Regions from separate parts of the Homo sapiens genome. Here region 2 is linked to region 1. Evidence: fine-mapped expression QTL. A gene starts in region 1. The other region holds a variant in brackets. All regions are shown on one strand. Distances are between the middles of the regions.

The links. PIP is the estimated chance that this variant, and not a neighbour inherited with it, causes the effect.
Region 2: its variant is fine-mapped to the expression of C10orf105 in whole blood (TOPMed, PIP above 0.99).

What each region holds. Positions count from the first base shown.
Region 1 is chr10:71,717,338-71,722,337 of GRCh38, reverse strand. It overlaps C10orf105 (chromosome 10 open reading frame 105), which reads left to right and starts at 2,560. Exons shown (of 2, transcript NM_001164375.3): 1 at 2,560-2,711. The region is part of intron 28 of CDH23 (cadherin related 23); the gene reads right to left. RefSeq lists an enhancer at 2,423-3,171.
Region 2 is chr10:71,747,767-71,752,766 of GRCh38, reverse strand. The region is part of intron 38 of CDH23 (cadherin related 23); the gene reads right to left. It overlaps VSIR (V-set immunoregulatory receptor), which reads left to right. Exons shown (of 7, transcript NM_022153.2): 6 at 906-1,099; 7 at 1,477-5,000. The coding sequence ends at 1,514. Among named protein-coding and RNA genes, the nearest start is that of VSIR, 23 kb to the left of the region's middle. RefSeq lists enhancers at 3,795-3,924, 4,125-4,174, 4,560-4,769. The variant G/T (reference allele first, on the strand shown) is at 2,170.

The DNA.
Region 1 (5,000 bases):
GGTATCCCAGTATTGCTACAGTACACTTCTCCTTCTGCCTAGATTATTATTATTTTTTTTGTAGAGACAGGGTCTTGCTATATTGCCCAGGCTGGTCTCGAACTCCTGAGCTCAAGCAATCCTCCCGCCTTGGCTTCCCAAAGTGGTGGGATTACAGGCATGAGCCACCATGTCTGGCCCTGCCTAAGATAATATAGAATGGATTTTCTTTCTTGCCACCCGAAGCCCTAATGTAGGCTTTCCTATCGTTGCTCACTGGACAAAACTGCAGAGAAGATGGGGATGGGTTCCTGCTAGCAAAGATCAAGAAAGCAGTGAAGGTGGGATTGGCTGAAGGTTTCCAAAGGAGGGAGCTGGGTTTGGAAGGATGGAGGAAACCTGGCTTAGCAGAGAAGGTTGGGAAGAACATTTGTGCTGGGAAACAGTGTTAGCTGAAGTAGAGGCAGCTGGGGAGGCTAAGGAAGGAACTAGGACCCCAGTCTGGAGTGAAGGGCTCATGCAGGGACAGCAGAGGGCTGTGGTTGGAAGAGTGGAATGACAGCCTCAATCAGCAGCACTGATGCCCTGGAACCTCCACAGGACAGGGAGTATAGACATGGTGGTATGAAGGCAGAGCGAGGAGCCTGTAGCAGGCGCTGGCCTCGATGCACATCCGGGCACTGCGGTAAGTGTGTCTAAGGATTCTGATGAGCATGTTGATGGTGGGGAGGAGGACGAGTACACTGGAGCAAAAAGAACAAGGGCCCTGGGTCAGGCACACCCAAGCATGAATTTAGGCTTTGTCACTTACTCTCTATGGCACTATGGATAAGTACTTTAGCCCCCTTGAGCCTCAGTTTTCTCATCTCTAGACTGGGCACAATGATGACCAGCCTTGCAGGGTTGAGGGGAAGATCAGAAGTCATCTTGCAAAGCGTCTTGGCTGGTGCCTAGCATGGGGATGTGTGGTGAAGGTCAACATGAGTGATGCCACCTTCTCCAGAGAGCCCTCTGGATTTATGCCAGAGCTGGGGATGGCTGGATTGCCCCTTGCCGTGCAGTTCTTTCTCTCTCCATTCCCTGAGAAACCTTAGGAGCTGGCAGGTGGAGGGATGTAACAGGGTGCTTCAATTGTCCAGATCTGGAAGGGCTCAGGATGGTGAAGAGAGCCACGTTGCCCAGAGCATGCCCTTGCATGCCTATCCATGGTGAGATTTCCTTGATGCCTCCCTGCTCCAGCAGCCTGCACCACCCTGGAAGCTTTGTCTTCTGTCATCTCAGGAGGAATGGGGGCCACAGATGAAGTGTTCAGTTGGTTTCAGGAGAGGAAGTTAAGGAAAATGAAGGCAGTGAATGCTGTGATGGAAGGTGCAGGAATCCCAATGGGGACTCTGGGCATTGAAAACACCTTTGGGCCGGATGCTTTGCCTACCCTGGATGCCTACTGCCTGCCCCTGCCCACCCAGCACAGGGGAAACACCAAGTCCCCCACCACTCACTTGCTGGGTGCCCCTGGGCAGGTCACACCTCTCTGGGCCTCAGTTTGGTCATCTGAGAGAAGACGGGGGCTCTTTTCTCTCAGAAGAGGAGTTAGATGACCCCTGAGGACCTCTCCAGCTTTAACAGTCCATAGGAAATCTCTTGTCCATCTTGGGGTTGGCAGACAGTGCCTCTTTTTATGGGCAAGGGCAGGAGGGAACAGCTAAAAACCAGAAACTGGGGCTCCAAAAAAGGGAATGGGTCTGAGGCTCAGGTCTTGGACAGGGCCATGACTCCTGTCTTGAGTTGCATTTCTGGGAGCTTGGAGGTCCCTGGTGGGGAAGCTGCCAAAGACTTGGGCTCCTAAGCAGGCAGCTGGTTGTCAGGGAAGCTCTGGCTTCTGGGGAGAAAGAAGGCTGGGGGAGGGAAGTGTGTGTGTGTGTGTGTGTGTGTGTGTGTTTTGGAAAGAGCCTCCAGTGGAGGTCTCCCGTGGCCCACCCGCACTGTGGGGAGCATGGCCTTGGAGGTCCGTCAGTCCTATGCTTTCTGCCCTGGGATCCCCCTGACCTTTGAAGATGCCCCTCACCCCTCGCTTCTGTAGCCAGACACCTTCAAAGGGAAGGTGCTTTTCTACAAGCTGAGGGAAAAGCCTGGAAGGAATGGGGCCCAGGGACGCTGCAGGAGGGGCCTCAGGGGCTGCCAGGGACCAGCACTCTCCCTGCTCCCCTCCTGCCATGGCTTGTAGCCCCTCTCCAGGGTAACCTGGTGGCTGGCAGGCACTGAATAGCGAACCTCTGGCTGCCGCCGACCATACCATTCAAACTTCCGACAGGGGAAGGTGAGCGCCATGGGGCCGCAGAGGCAGTAAAACCCTCCCCCTGCGTCTCCCCAGAGTCTTCCACCCCTGAGAGGGCTCCAAGGAGACAGGCTGGAGAGAGGCGGTGGGAAGGCCAGGGGGCATCCCAGAGTCTCTGGACAGCTCCCCTCTCCCTCTTCCCAACCCAGTTGCCATCCCTACTCCCTTAGCTATCCCCTCCCCCAAGGCAGGGCCCAAACTCTTCTAGACAAAGCCAGGTCCAGCTGGGGAGTGACGGGGAGGCCACTCTGCTGGCCAGGCTGACCGAGGGCTGCAGGGCACAGCAGAGCCTGGCAGGGCTGGGGTCACAGGCACTGCCCAGGGCTCCTTGGGCCTCCCTTCCACAGCTGAGAAGACCTCTCCACGGAGCTCCGGACGGCTGGGGTCTGGCTCTGAGGTCAGTGCTTGGGGGACTGCAGGAGAAGGCTTGGAGAGGGAAGTGTGGTGGAGACCCTTGCTGGGGACTCCTGGGAGAATGTGAGGGTATGCTCAGACCTAGGCAGTCCTCTGGTTCTGTAGAGAGGGGAAACAAGGCCCAGTAAGGGGTAGGGACTAGCCCGAGGCCACACAGCAGTCTTCTCTGCCCACAGCAGGTCCTGCTCTGTGGAACTCCAAGGGAAGAGGAGGGTCCTAGACTGAGCTTGCAGAGATATGTCCAGAGCAGGGCCCGCTGGTGCACCCTGGCCCCAGTGGGAAGGGAGTGGCTTCAACTGCCCTCCAGATGATTCCTGGCCTTGGTCCGGGCAAGGCATCCTCTCCCAGTACTAGCTGGCCTTTGCTGGTTGGTCAGTAGCCGGGTGTCAAGGGGCCTGGCAGCTGGACTTGCCTCGTGCTCCAGGAAGGGTGTTGTGTTGTTTTCAAGCACTTAGGAATCTCTCGTTGCCACAGGAACTACTCAGATGCTAATTACAACTCCACTTATTTTTTTTTTATTTTTTATTTTTTTGAGACAGAGTGTTGCTCTGTCGCTCAGGCTGTAGCGCAGTGGCATGATTCTAGCTCGCTGTAGCCTCAAACTTTTGGGCTCAAATGATCCTTCTGCCTCAGCCTCCTGAGTAGCTGGGGCCACAGGCACATACTACCACACCTGGCTAATTAAAAAACCTTTTTTTTTTTTCTTTCAGAAATGAAGACTCACTATGTTGCCCAGGCTGTTCTCAAACTCCTGGGCTCAAGTGATCCTCCTGCCTTGGCCTCCCAAAGTGCTGGGATTACAGGTGAGAGCCAACACGCCTGGCCTCACTTATTTTTTAAATTAAAGCAGGTCCCAAGGCCTGAAGCCTGGATCCTATTTGCTAGCCCAGTAGGGTCTCCAGATTCCTTTGAAGGCCTTGAAATAACATTAGAACTAGTAGGATTGAGGCATCTCCCATTTCAGACTGCCCTTTTCTTACTCCTGGCCAAGCATTGTCCAGGGTAGGAGAGAGGGATGGCTGATTTTCTCCCCACGGGAATGAGCGGTGGGCACACCCCATCCCTCCTCCCTGCTCAGACTCAAGGAAAGGCCAACCCATGCACAGCTGCCCAGCCAGAGTGCTCTCTAGGCCTGATGCCGCAAAGGCGGAGGCCCTGGGCAGCTAGACGGGCATCACACTTTCCAGCCAGGCACTGGGAGGGGTCGTTTTCTGCCTGGAAGTGCTGGGAGGGGTGGTGGTGGGGAATGGGTGGGAGGTGGGGTGCTCTGCATGCCCTCAGTTGGCTGGGCGCAGGGAGCCAGGAGTGAGGTCCTGCGGCTGCTGGTGAGTGCCTGGGGTAGGGACAGGAGTCCCTCGGGTGGGGAACTAGGTGGCCCACTCCCCTCCCCACTACCTGTGGCAGGGTTTCTCTGAGCGTGACCTGACATCTTTCCTCCTCCTGAGCTTCCGTGCTAGAAACTCAACTGTTATCTAAGCTGCAAGCTGGGAAGGAGGAAAATCTGCTATCCCCCACCCTCATGAAAAGGAAAGACCCCAAGGTTAAAGGGAAATCATGACTTTTTATCAGACCCCCTGGGATTGCTTGTCCACGTCAGTAGAATTTAAATATCACACATGCTGACCTGCAAGCTGGACGTCCTCTGCTTATGTGTTTGGTTTGGCCTGTGTAGTGTTTCAAATATTTGAAAATTCATTTCACATTATTTTGAAATCAAGTTTATTTGGCTTTTGCTGTGTTCTCCCCCACCCCACCTCTCTTCTTTCTTGCCTTCAACAAATTTGAATTAGCTGCCAACATTTAAACGTCTAGAATGTTTGCCTTTAAAAAAATCCAGATTTCTGGCTTCTCTTGGGAAACTGACAGAGCTGACCACACTGGGCCTGCACTCCGGCACTGACAGCACCATTCTGGGCTGAGGCCCCTCCACTTCCTTGAGAGGGCCCAGCCAGTGCTCTCCAGGTGGCCCTGCTCATCTGTACCCTCTGGTCATGTGTTATCTGCTGGCCAGGATCTGTGAGCATTTTTATTACAACCCCAGACATATTGAGCCAAAAGCTCAGCCTGGTTTTCCATCGACAAGGACCGTCTGCTGCACTGCGTCTAATGGGATGATCTTCAGTGGGAAAGGAAATGCCCTGTCAGGTGTATGATGTCCCTGGGGGGTTTCCAGCCCCCTTGTCAACTCCTTGTGGGTTTATTTCCCACCTGTTCCCAGAGCAGCTCACTGAGCTCCGAAAGGGCTGGGGGCCAGAGGGGTGGCAAGGCCATG
Region 2 (5,000 bases), 30 kb before region 1:
TGTGTCATGCACCCACCTTCGGGTCTCAGTGGTCAGCCTGGGCCAGGATGGGGACAGGGAGGAAGCACTGTCTGGGGCAGACAGTGAGACATGCAAAGGAGGCCAGCGGGCCCAGCCCCAGCCACAGCCCTTGAGCTGTGCCTCCTGCCCGCAGAGAACTCCAAGGAGAAAGCTGTTAGGCCGCTGCAGGCCACAAGGGCAGAGGCTGAGGGGTCCCAGAGTGGTGCAGTGGGCTGGGTCTAGGGGCAGAGGGGATGGGGACTGTGTATTGGTGTGCTCTGGGCAGGAAGCTGCCATGCAGCCTGGCCTGGAGGGTGTGTTCAGGGAACCCAAGTTCCTGCCCCGGTACCTGCAACACCAAACACAAAGCTCCTCTAGGTGTTTGAAAGGGATGATCTTCAAGACAGGTTGAAGGAAGTCCTGCTTGCAACTCATCTAGAATCTAAGAGTTGCAGGGGTCTTCAGAAGTTATCCCACTCCCAACTGGGAAGAGAAGAGAACCCCTCCCCTCAGCTCAAGACAGGCTTTGGGGATGTTCGATCCTAATGCCATCAACTCTATTGACCAAAGAGAAACTTGTCCCCAAATTCCTGAGGCTGAAGTTCTAGAAGTGTCTGTGATTTTTGGCTTCCTGGCTGTGCCCGGGGTTGATGGTCAGACCACAGGGAGGAGCTGGGGTCTGTTCTGGTGGGCCCTGATGCCCTCAGCTCAGGACAGGTGGGCAGGTGCAGCCCATGGCCTTTGCTCTGTGGGCCTGGCTCCTGCCTTCTTGCTTGGAGATGCTGCTGAGGCTTGGGGATGGGGATGTAGGTGAGAGAAAGGGAGGAGAGAAAAACTGGGGGCAGGGAGGGCAGAGTTCACGCTCCGGACAGCACAGATGACCTTCCATTCTGGTTCTGTGGCAGCAACATTCAAGGGATTGAAAACCCCGGCTTTGAAGCCTCACCACCTGCCCAGGGGATACCCGAGGCCAAAGTCAGGCACCCCCTGTCCTATGTGGCCCAGCGGCAGCCTTCTGAGTCTGGGCGGCATCTGCTTTCGGAGCCCAGCACCCCCCTGTCTCCTCCAGGCCCCGGAGACGTCTTCTTCCCATCCCTGGGTAAGTGTTTCCTGACCTTCACAGCACGATGACCTGTAAGGTCATGACCTCATGGCCTGCAGGGCATCGGCCTCACTCCCTGCCCTCCCTGAAGAGTTCCACGGCCTCACGGGGTGGGGTTGAGGGTGAGGGACAGAGGGGCCCCCATTCACCTCCCTGAAGAGTTCCACGGCCTCACGGGGTGGGGTTGAGGGTGAGGGACAGAGGGGCCCCCATTCACCTCCCTGAAGAGTTCCACGGCCTCACGGGGTGGGGTTGAGGGTGAGGGACAGAGGGGCCCCCATTCACCTCCCTGAAGAGTTCCACGGCCTCACGGGGTGGGGTTGAGGGTGAGGGGCAGAGGGGCCCCGTTCACTTTGCTTCTCCTTTTCTTGCAGACCCTGTCCCTGACTCTCCAAACTTTGAGGTCATCTAGCCCAGCTGGGGGACAGTGGGCTGTTGTGGCTGGGTCTGGGGCAGGTGCATTTGAGCCAGGGCTGGCTCTGTGAGTGGCCTCCTTGGCCTCGGCCCTGGTTCCCTCCCTCCTGCTCTGGGCTCAGATACTGTGACATCCCAGAAGCCCAGCCCCTCAACCCCTCTGGATGCTACATGGGGATGCTGGACGGCTCAGCCCCTGTTCCAAGGATTTTGGGGTGCTGAGATTCTCCCCTAGAGACCTGAAATTCACCAGCTACAGATGCCAAATGACTTACATCTTAAGAAGTCTCAGAACGTCCAGCCCTTCAGCAGCTCTCGTTCTGAGACATGAGCCTTGGGATGTGGCAGCATCAGTGGGACAAGATGGACACTGGGCCACCCTCCCAGGCACCAGACACAGGGCACGGTGGAGAGACTTCTCCCCCGTGGCCGCCTTGGCTCCCCCGTTTTGCCCGAGGCTGCTCTTCTGTCAGACTTCCTCTTTGTACCACAGTGGCTCTGGGGCCAGGCCTGCCTGCCCACTGGCCATCGCCACCTTCCCCAGCTGCCTCCTACCAGCAGTTTCTCTGAAGATCTGTCAACAGGTTAAGTCAATCTGGGGCTTCCACTGCCTGCATTCCAGTCCCCAGAGCTTGGTGGTCCCGAAACGGGAA[G/T]TACATATTGGGGCATGGTGGCCTCCGTGAGCAAATGGTGTCTTGGGCAATCTGAGGCCAGGACAGATGTTGCCCCACCCACTGGAGATGGTGCTGAGGGAGGTGGGTGGGGCCTTCTGGGAAGGTGAGTGGAGAGGGGCACCTGCCCCCCGCCCTCCCCATCCCCTACTCCCACTGCTCAGCGCGGGCCATTGCAAGGGTGCCACACAATGTCTTGTCCACCCTGGGACACTTCTGAGTATGAAGCGGGATGCTATTAAAAACTACATGGGGAAACAGGTGCAAACCCTGGAGATGGATTGTAAGAGCCAGTTTAAATCTGCACTCTGCTGCTCCTCCCCCACCCCCACCTTCCACTCCATACAATCTGGGCCTGGTGGAGTCTTCGCTTCAGAGCCATTCGGCCAGGTGCGGGTGATGTTCCCATCTCCTGCTTGTGGGCATGCCCTGGCTTTGTTTTTATACACATAGGCAAGGTGAGTCCTCTGTGGAATTGTGATTGAAGGATTTTAAAGCAGGGGAGGAGAGTAGGGGGCATCTCTGTACACTCTGGGGGTAAAACAGGGAAGGCAGTGCCTGAGCATGGGGACAGGTGAGGTGGGGCTGGGCAGACCCCCTGTAGCGTTTAGCAGGATGGGGGCCCCAGGTACTGTGGAGAGCATAGTCCAGCCTGGGCATTTGTCTCCTAGCAGCCTACACTGGCTCTGCTGAGCTGGGCCTGGGTGCTGAAAGCCAGGATTTGGGGCTAGGCGGGAAGATGTTCGCCCAATTGCTTGGGGGGTTGGGGGGATGGAAAAGGGGAGCACCTCTAGGCTGCCTGGCAGCAGTGAGCCCTGGGCCTGTGGCTACAGCCAGGGAACCCCACCTGGACACATGGCCCTGCTTCTAAGCCCCCCAGTTAGGCCCAAAGGAATGGTCCACTGAGGGCCTCCTGCTCTGCCTGGGCTGGGCCAGGGGCTTTGAGGAGAGGGTAAACATAGGCCCGGAGATGGGGCTGACACCTCGAGTGGCCAGAATATGCCCAAACCCCGGCTTCTCCCTTGTCCCTAGGCAGAGGGGGGTCCCTTCTTTTGTTCCCTCTGGTCACCACAATGCTTGATGCCAGCTGCCATAGGAAGAGGGTGCTGGCTGGCCATGGTGGCACACACCTGTCCTCCCAGCACTTTGCAGGGCTGAGGTGGAAGGACCGCTTAAGCCCAGGTGTTCAAGGCTGCTGTGAGCTGTGTTCGAGCCACTACACTCCAGCCTGGGGACGGAGCAAAACTTTGCCTCAAAACAAATTTTAAAAAGAAAGAAAGAAGGAAAGAGGGTATGTTTTTCACAATTCATGGGGGCCTGCATGGCAGGAGTGGGGACAGGACACCTGCTGTTCCTGGAGTCGAAGGACAAGCCCACAGCCCAGATTCCGGTTCTCCCAACTCAGGAAGAGCATGCCCTGCCCTCTGGGGAGGCTGGCCTGGCCCCAGCCCTCAGCTGCTGACCTTGAGGCAGAGACAACTTCTAAGAATTTGGCTGCCAGACCCCAGGCCTGGCTGCTGCTGTGTGGAGAGGGAGGCGGCCCGCAGCAGAACAGCCACCGCACTTCCTCCTCAGCTTCCTCTGGTGCGGCCCTGCCCTCTCTTCTCTGGACCCTTTTACAACTGAACGCATCTGGGCTTCGTGGTTTCCTGTTTTCAGCGAAATTTACTCTGAGCTCCCAGTTCCATCTTCATCCATGGCCACAGGCCCTGCCTACAACGCACTAGGGACGTCCCTCCCTGCTGCTGCTGGGGAGGGGCAGGCTGCTGGAGCCGCCCTCTGAGTTGCCCGGGATGGTAGTGCCTCTGATGCCAGCCCTGGTGGCTGTGGGCTGGGGTGCATGGGAGAGCTGGGTGCGAGAACATGGCGCCTCCAGGGGGCGGGAGGAGCACTAGGGGCTGGGGCAGGAGGCTCCTGGAGCGCTGGATTCGTGGCACAGTCTGAGGCCCTGAGAGGGAAATCCATGCTTTTAAGAACTAATTCATTGTTAGGAGATCAATCAGGAATTAGGGGCCATCTTACCTATCTCCTGACATTCACAGTTTAATAGAGACTTCCTGCCTTTATTCCCTCCCAGGGAGAGGCTGAAGGAATGGAATTGAAAGCACCATTTGGAGGGTTTTGCTGACACAGCGGGGACTGCTCAGCACTCCCTAAAAACACACCATGGAGGCCACTGGTGACTGCTGGTGGGCAGGCTGGCCCTGCCTGGGGGAGTCCGTGGCGATGGGCGCTGGGGTGGAGGTGCAGGAGCCCCAGGACCTGCTTTTCAAAAGACTTCTGCCTGACCAGAGCTCCCACTACATGCAGTGGCCCAGGGCAGAGGGGCTGATACATGGCCTTTTTCAGGGGGTGCTCCTCGCGGGGTGGACTTGGGAGTGTGCAGTGGGACAGGGGGCTGCAGGGGTCCTGCCACCACCGAGCACCAACTTGGCCCCTGGGGTCCTGCCTCATGAATGAGGCCTTCCCCAGGGCTGGCCTGACTGTGCTGGGGGCTGGGTTAACGTTTTCTCAGGGAACCACAATGCACGAAAGAGGAACTGGGGTTGCTAACCAGGATGCTGGGAACAAAGGCCTCTTGAAGCCCAGCCACAGCCCAGCTGAGCATGAGGCCCAGCCCATAGACGGCACAGGCCACCTGGCCCATTCCCTGGGCATTCCCTGCTTTGCATTGCTGCTTCTCTTCACCCCATGGAGGCTATGTCACCCTAACTATCCTGGAATGTGTTGAGAGGGATTCTGAATGATCAATATAGCTTGGTGAGACAGTGCCGAGATAGATAGCCATGTCTGCCTTGGGCACGGGAGAGGGA